3 separate regions of the Homo sapiens genome follow, and regions 1 and 3 are each linked to region 2. Evidence: fine-mapped expression QTL. A gene starts in region 2. Each other region holds a variant in brackets. All regions are shown on one strand. Distances are from middle to middle. Region 1 has its middle 41 kb from the start of PTH2R. Region 2 holds the start of PIKFYVE (phosphoinositide kinase, FYVE-type zinc finger containing). Region 3 overlaps LOC101927960 (a long non-coding RNA gene).

Evidence for each region. PIP is the estimated chance that this variant, and not a neighbour inherited with it, causes the effect. A credible set is the group of variants that fine-mapping cannot tell apart.
Region 1: its variant is the best candidate, but not a certain one, in a credible set for the expression of PIKFYVE in tibial nerve (GTEx, PIP 0.57).
Region 3: its variant is the best candidate, but not a certain one, in a credible set for the expression of PIKFYVE in whole blood (INTERVAL, PIP 0.60).

The regions. Positions count from the first base shown.
Region 1 is chr2:208,364,103-208,366,864 of GRCh38, reverse strand. It overlaps a transcript of PTH2R not described here. Among named protein-coding and RNA genes, the nearest start is that of PTH2R, 41 kb to the left of the region's middle. The variant T/C (reference allele first, on the strand shown) is at 1,538.
Region 2 is chr2:208,264,581-208,267,342 of GRCh38, reverse strand. PIKFYVE (phosphoinositide kinase, FYVE-type zinc finger containing) reads right to left here and starts at 1,088. Exons shown (of 42, transcript NM_015040.4): 1 at 928-1,088. RefSeq lists a silencer at 802-1,071 and an enhancer at 1,202-1,251.
Region 3 is chr2:208,556,364-208,559,125 of GRCh38, reverse strand. The region is part of intron 1 of LOC101927960 (a long non-coding RNA gene); the gene reads right to left. Among named protein-coding and RNA genes, the nearest start is that of PTH2R, 150 kb to the right of the region's middle. The variant A/T (reference allele first, on the strand shown) is at 1,264.

The sequences.
Region 1 (2,762 bases), 100 kb before region 2:
ACTTGGTAAATGGCACAAGTGTAAGCTACGGTCTGGTTATATTCCACTTGTTACAGTTCACGATGTACAGAAAAACCTTTAAGCCGAACTTAAAATATGTAAGAAAGCAGCTTCATGCTAAACTTTATTTCACAAGAGGAAGTGTGAATCAAGGTACAATGGTATCAAGAAGAAAGCTGAGCAGAAGTCCTTACCTCAATGCAGTACAGCACATTAACAGAATAAACCAGGCTGCACCAGCAGGGATTGAGGTAAGGATGATGGCTGGGCTAAGAATTATGGGATGGTGAGGAATGACATAGGAGTTCATGGCTATTAGATCTTGTACAAATTGAAAAGTATGATTACCTCCTGAATCAAATTTCCCTTCTTTCTTTACTAGCAAGACAAGGGTATTGCAAGGTGAGAAGGTAAAAATAAGGACACCCCATTATAAAAGGGGGGCCTATTATAGTTTCAATTCCTAATTCTGCATCTCCAGATAGGAGGTACTGAGCTACAGATAAGAAAGGATTATAAGAGAAGACTATGAACTATACCAACAAACTGGATGACCTATAAGAAATGGATAAATTTCTAGAAACACCAAACCTGCCAAGACTGAATCATGAAGAAATAGAAGATATAAATAGACCAATAACTAGTAAGGAAATTGAGTTGGTAATTAAAAACCTCCCAACAAAGAAAAGCCCAGGACTAGAAGACTTCACTGAAGAATTCTACCAAATATTGAAGAATTAACACTGGCCAGACGTGGTGGCTCATGCCTGTAATCCCAGAACTTTGGGAGACTGAGGTGAGAGGTTCACTTGAGCCTAGGAGTCTGAGACCAGCCTGGGCAACATAGCAAGACCTACCTTGTCTCTGCAAAAAAAAAAAAAAAAAAAAAAAAAAAAAAAAAAAATATATATATATATATATATATATATATATATTTATCTATTATATTATATATATATAAATTAGCTGTGCATGGTGGCACATGCTTATAGTCCCAGCTACTCAGGAGGCTGAAGCAGAATTGCTTGAGCCCAGGAGTTAGAGGCTGCAGTGAGCTATGATTGTGCCGCTGCACTCCAGCCTGGGTGACAGTGAGACCCTGTCTCCAAAAAAAAAAAAAAAAGAATTTACATCAATCCCCCAAAAACTGAAGAGAAAGGAATACTTCCAAGGTCATTCTTTGAGGGGCAGCATTAGTGTGATATCAAAGCTAGGCAAAAATACTACAAGAAAAAATAAATAATTACCCAATATGTCTGATGAACGTAGTCAAAAAAATACTAGCAAAATAAATTCAACAGCACACTCAAAAGATCATTCACCATGATCAAGTGGGATTTATCCCTGGGATGCAAGGATGGTTCAACATATGAAAATCAATGTAGTACACCACATTTACAGAATAAAGGACAAAACCCACATGACCATCTCCACTGATGCAGGAAAAGCATTTGGCAAAATTCAATATCCTTTCACACACAAAAAAAGAAAAGAAAAGAAAAAAAACACTCAAAAGTGGAAAGAGAAGGAAATTACC[T/C]GCACATAATAAAGGTTGTTTAGGAAAAGTCCACAGCTAACGGCATACTCAGTGAAAAACTGGAAGCTTTTCCTCTAAGATTAAGAACAAGGCAAAAATGTCTGTTCTGGACACTTCTATTCAACAGAGTATTGGAACTCCAGTCCAAAGCAATTAGACAAGAAAAAGCAATAAAAGGCATCCAAATTGGGAAGAAAGAAGTAAAAATTTCTGTTTGTAGATGGCATGATCTTATATGCAGAAAATCCTAAAGATTCCACCAAAAAAAAAAAACAGGTTAGAACAAATTTAAAAATTCAGTAAAGTTACCAGATACAAAATCAACACACATACAAAAAATCAGTTACATTTCTATACACAAATAGTGAAAGCATCTGAAAAAATTAAGAAAATGATTCCCGTTGCAATGGCATCAAAAAGAAAACAATTCTTAGAAATTGACTAAGGAAGTAAAAACTTATATAATGAAAACTATAAAACATTACTGAAAGAAATCAAAGAAGAGATAAATAAATAGAAACATCTCACATTCATGGATTAGACTTAATATTATTAAGATGTTAATATCACTCAAAACAGTCTACAGATTCAATTCAATCCTTATCAAAATTCCAATAGCATTTGTTGCAGAAATAGAAGAATTCATCCTAAAATTGATATGGAATCTCAAAGGGCCCTAAGAGTCAAACAATTTTGAAAAAGAAGAATAAAACAGTGTGGTACTGGAATAAAGACAGATATACAAATCAATAGAACAGAATAAAGAGCCCAGAAATAAACTTGTGTACACATGGCCAACTGACCTCCAAGAAGAGCTCCAACAGCACTAAATGGGAAAAGGACAGTCTGGTCAACAAATGATGCTGGGAAAACTGGATATTTACATGCAAAACAATGCAGTTGGACCTGTTTCTTACACCACATACAAAAATTAACTCAAAATGGACTAAAGACTTAAACCAAAGACCCAAAGCAATAAAACTTCTGGAAGAAAACATAGAAAAAAATCGTCAGGACATTGAATGTGGATATGACACATTCCACATTCTTGGATATGACACCAAAATCACAGGCAACCAAAAAAAATGGACAAATGGGACTGCATCAAACATAAAAACTTTTGTTCATTGAAGGACACAATAGTGAAAAGGCAACCTACAGAATGAGGGAAAATGTTTTGCAAATCATATTTGATAAGATGTTAGCATCCATAATATATAAAGAA
Region 2 (2,762 bases):
GAAGAGATTTAACCTACACAATCTTTGTCACAAACACAAAAGAAAGAACATTTTTTGTAAGAAAACTGACAGAGTGGGAGTTTTGGAGTGCCAAAAAAGGGGCTCAAATAAATCAGAAATAAGTACATTATACCAAGCGACTACCTCTATTGTCAACACTGGACATATTTTACAACACAGGATGCACTGCGTCAATAGTAGATAATGAATCATGTATACACATCAGATACACACGAATAACTTGCTTTATACAGAATTCTAGCACTTCTTATATTTCTTGACTGTCTTAGGAATAACCTCTGATTGGGCAGAAAACCCCTAAGTCCTAAAAGTTTCCAACACATTCCATTCTCATCCTTTTGTTGGGAACATTCTAAGCAAAGGGTAAACACTAATTGGGAAATAATGCTCCTCCTCAAGAAACTCCAAAACCTAAGTTGAAATGGAATCGTCTCAAATAGCAGAGGCAAGCATTTAAAAAGACAAACACTTATTTGAACCCCCACGGTTGGTATCGTTTCTGCAGCTCATGAACTTTCTTTTCCAGCCTACGGATGCGCCTCTGACAAACTCAGAACTCATGCACTCAGAGGGAAAAGTAACTGTACTCTTCCCCTCCTAATTAAGTTCAGGCGTAAGGGTCGAGAGAGAGGCAAAGGAACTTCAAATGTTTCCAAGGAAATCTCAAGGGCCCCACCCGGCTTCCGTCCCCACTCGCCAGACAAGGCAGCCGGGGAATAGGGAGGACAAGCTAATTCTAAAGCCAGATTCTCTGCCCTTCCTTGCTCAGCCGGCAGCCAGGCCCTAGCCCCCGACTGCGGAGCCCTGGTTCTCACTTTCACCTCAGCTCTGGCCCTGGAGCTCCCCATACCGGCCTCCTTCCCATGCTGAGCCCCAGCCGGCCAAGCTCCAGGCCCCCTCCCTTACCTGCGCCTCCTGCCCCGGCCGCGCCGGCTGCCCCCCGCCCCAGCCTCCGCTTCAACGGCTCAGCCCCCGGAAGTCGGCCCCCGAGAGCGGCGGTGGGCTCCTCAGGCCGCGGACGGTTGCGGCAGGAAGCGAAGCTGCTTACATGGTTGATGCGGCTTCTCGCTTCCCCCCCCCAAGACTCCGCCCTCTGTTTTCCTGTCCCCCAGTCCGAAATCTTTCCCGGGGGCCGGCTCCTCCCAGCCCGGCCGACGCTCGGATCAGATGCTCAGGCAGAAGGAGTCCAGCCCAGATCGAGTCGTCCTGATCTTTTGGCCGAGATTAGGCCGCTTCAGCCTTCCTGGAAGAAGCCAGGGGGACTGCGCGCGTGAGCGTCACGCATGCGGGGTCAACGGATGGGTGCTTGGTGCTCTGGGCACTGCAGGGGTGCTGGCTGGACTGCGGTTACCGTATGTGTTCGATACTGTGGGCACTCATAATATGTTATTGCTTTGTTGTAGACAGTTCACTCGTGTAGCACTGAACCGGAGTTAGCGATGACTCTGTTTCCAGACTTGCATGACTCCACCAATAACCAGCCATATGATCTTAAGCAAATTGCTCATTTATTTAGGCCTTAGACCTCTGGTGTGTAAAGTCGGATTAATAAAAGGACTCACTTCTTAATACTTTTTTGAGATTAAGTAAATGCACTTAAAGCGAATGGCACAGTTCCCTGACCCAGAGTAAGTGATGTCGGCTTTATAGTTAATTTTTTCATTTAGGTGTTGTGTTGCAAATGCTGATGCAAATAAAGTTACCAAGCCCAAGCCCTATCTTGTTCAGCTTGGCTAGAGTTATTCGTCATTTCTGTCCTGCTGAGAGCGCAGTGCAGTTAACTGCAGAAAACATGCTCGCCGCAGTTGTGGGGCTTGGTAGGGGAGGATGGAAAGCAGACGAAACCTAAAGGGAAATGCAGTTTTAAATTCTGTGAGTCCTTTTCCTCAAGAGTTTTGTCAAATCCCAGCCCAGTTTTCCTGGAGTTGGAAAGCACCATCGAAACCTGCAGGTTGAGTCCAGTGCAAATCCCAGTCACCATCCTCAGCTGGGCCCTTCAGCAATCTTTCTGGGAGTCTGTAGTCAGCTTCTCCCATTCCTTATTACTGCTGCGTCAGACCACCACCACGACCCCCACATTACCTTGACCATCATTCTCATCAGAGAATCATATTTTATACCCACGTGAAAAATCCCAAGGTATCTGGGCGTGACCCTTAACAAGCTAATTCCCCACACACCACAACATTTACCTACATCCACATCTGCCCTGGTCTGCCTTTCTCCCTCATCTCTCTGAGGAAGGGGCCTCTTCTTCCCCAGCTCAATCCTTTTGGCCCCCAATTCACCCTCTCCTGTCTGGGAGCTTGCACCGTATCTGCAACCTCCCCTTTTCCAATGACTCTGCCTCCTCAGCCCATAAAGATGCTCAAGTCTCTGCCTTCCTTTAAAAAAATTTTTTTTAAAAATTTAAGATAAGCAAAAAAGGCCCTCGTAATTATCACCCTATGTTAATATTTCATAAACCTACAATAAAGTATGAAATAGGTACAGAGATCATATGAAAAGAATAAATTGCCCAGCCACGACGACTGCAGTGTATGTAGAAACTCCATCTATGGTTTAAAAAAAAAAAAAAAAAGTGCACTCCGCAAATATTTTTGAGTCCCTAATTTAACCTGCAGTGTGTTAGTTATAGAAGCACTACACTAAGGATAGAATTATGAACGTATCCCACTGCTTCACTTGACTAGCCTAAAAAATAAAAATATATGTGAACATTACACAGTCCATGTCCTCAA
Region 3 (2,762 bases), 290 kb before region 2:
GTTTATGGACTAGTCTTTTTTGTTTGTTTGTTTTGTTTTAGAGGCAGAGTTTTTGCTCTTGTTGCCCAGGCTGGAGTGCAATGGCGCGATCTCAGCTCACCGCAACTCCGCCTCCCGGGTTCAAGCGATTCTCCTGCCTCAGCCTCCTGAATAGCTGGGGTTACAGGCACGCGCCACCACGCCCGGCTAATTTTGCATTTTTAGTAGAGACGGCGTTTCTCCATGTTGGCCAGGCTGGCCTCAAACTCCCGACCTCAGGTGATCCCCCTGCCTTGGCCTCCCAAAGTGTAGACTAGTCTTTAAGTACTGCTTTTATAAGGTTTGGTTTTCCATTCAGCCTTTCCTCTGATTTCATCTCCATAAAAAATATCGGTTTGGGCGCAGTGGCTCACGCCTGTAATCCCAGCACTTTGAGAGGCCGAGGCGGGCGGAGCACGAGGTCAGGAGATGGAGACCATCCTGGCTAACACGGTGAAACCCTTTCTCTACTAAAAATACAAAAATTAGCCGGGCGAGGTGGCGGGCGCCTGTAGTCCCAGCTACTCCGGAGGCTGAGGCAGGAGAACGGCTTAAACCCGGGAGGCGGAGCTTGCAGTGAGCCGAGATTGCGCCACTGCTCTCCAGCCTGGGCGACAGAGCGAGACTCCGTCTCAAAAAAAAAAAAAAAAAAAAGAAAGAAAGAAAGAAAGAAAGAAAAATATCAGCAAATAAGAAGCATAACAGTGATTTCCACTGGAACTCAAATTTTTCTAGGAGAGTAGTTCTTAACTAGGACCATTTTCTTTAAAATACTAATTCCCAGGTCCTATTAATCAAAATATCTTTGAGAGAGGTGGAGATTGGGATATAAGCAACAGAATGTTTTAAGCCCCAGATGATTTAGCTAGCATTGAGGACTACAGCTCTAAGCTGTGTTTCCCAAACTTTAACGTGCCTAGAATCACCTGGGGTGACGATTAAAAAGTCACATTTCCTAGTCTCATTGTTTAGCGCTAGATTAGATAAATATTTCGGTTCTCCTCTTCCTCCACACCTTTGCCATGTAAGTATGCGGCACCTTTCCACTGTAAATGGGGCATACTCCCCCACTCCCTGATTTCTTTTGAGCCACATGACCTGGCCTGCTTTGGCTCATAGGATGTTACCAGATGCGGCAGAGGCACAGGCTTGAAAAGCACTTGTGTGATCAAGTCTGCACGCTGGCACCTCTGCTATTACTGAAACTGCCTTTGCAAAAAATTATAACAGTGGGAAAATTATGAC[A/T]GTGAAAGAGATCTGATCTAACCAATCTTCATCTTGCCTTTAAACTCCAAACTGCCCTTGGTCATTCCTGGGCTTGGGCCAAGCTAACTGTAAGAGAAATTTAATTTATAGTTTAAATGATAACAGCTCTACCCCAAAATTAAACCACCTTTGTAAAACTAATGAAAGATCACCAGTTTAGGAGAATGAGAGGAGCCGGAATTCTGCTAAGATGTAGACGCAAATGATTACCAGGCATTACCCCAGATGTCACAAGATTCGCAACTTACTCCCAATTACTCCTGCAGATAACATCACTATTGTAGAACCCAAGATTGGCCTTTTGAAATGTCTTTTCAAGTTTTTGCATTTCTGATGACTGACTAGCCCCATTCAGGCCCAAGACTTGACTCAACTAGTTCTGTGGCCCCCATCCAGAAGTGGACTCAGTTCACAAGGACCGTTCTCCACGCCCCTGTGATTGCATTCCCTAACATCAGCAACACCCATTTCTTTGCTTGCCAAACTATCCCTGAAAAACCCTGGCCTCTTAATTTCCAGAGAGATTGATTTGAGTAATAAACTCCAGTCCCCCGTTCAGCCAGCTGTGTGAATTAAACTCTTTCTCTATTGCAATTATCCTGTCTTGATAAATCAGCTCTATCCAGGAAGCAGGCAAGATGAACCCATTGGGCAGTTATATTATCATAAGAACAACATGCCTGGTTTAGCAAGCAGGCCTCAGGAGAAGAATGGGACACTGGAGCAGAGCCAAGTTAGTCCAGCCAAACCCAACCTTAATCAGCCACATCTCCTCCACCCCCAACCCCAGTGGGTGATAAAGCCCAGCCAAATCATCAGAGCTGCCAGCCAGTTAGCTTAGATCAGATGGTCCCTGTCAACCTGCAGATATGTAAGCAAAATGCTGCCTGAAATTTATTGTTCATTTGTAATGTAAGTAATAGATAATCAATATAATCTACACAAGAAACTCTGATTTGGTGACTACTTTCGACTGGTTTCCTTTGTTTACGATTGATAGAAAGCTAACCCAAACTCCCTTAAAAATAAAAGAAAATGTTCCGAATTACAAAATGAATAAAAAAGGGAGTCAACACAGCTCCAGGAATGACAGATTCCAAGTATTTAGATGGTACTGTAGGTAATTTGACTCTCCAACAGAGATGCAGCTGGAGGCTGTCATCCTAAGTGAATTAACACAAACAGAAAACCAAATACCACATGTTCTCACTTATAAGTGGGAGCTAAACATTGGGTGCTTGTGGACACAAAGATGAAAACAATAGAAACTGAGGACTACTATGGGGGGAGGAAAGAAGGAAAACAAGGGTTGAAAAGCTAACTATTTGAGTACTATGCTCAGTATCTGGGTGATGGGATAAATCATAACCCAAACTTCAGCATCATGCAATATACTCAGGTAACAAGTCAGCACAGATACCCCCTGAATCTAAAATAAAGGTTGAAATTATTAAAAAGAAAAAGAAAGAAAGAAAGAA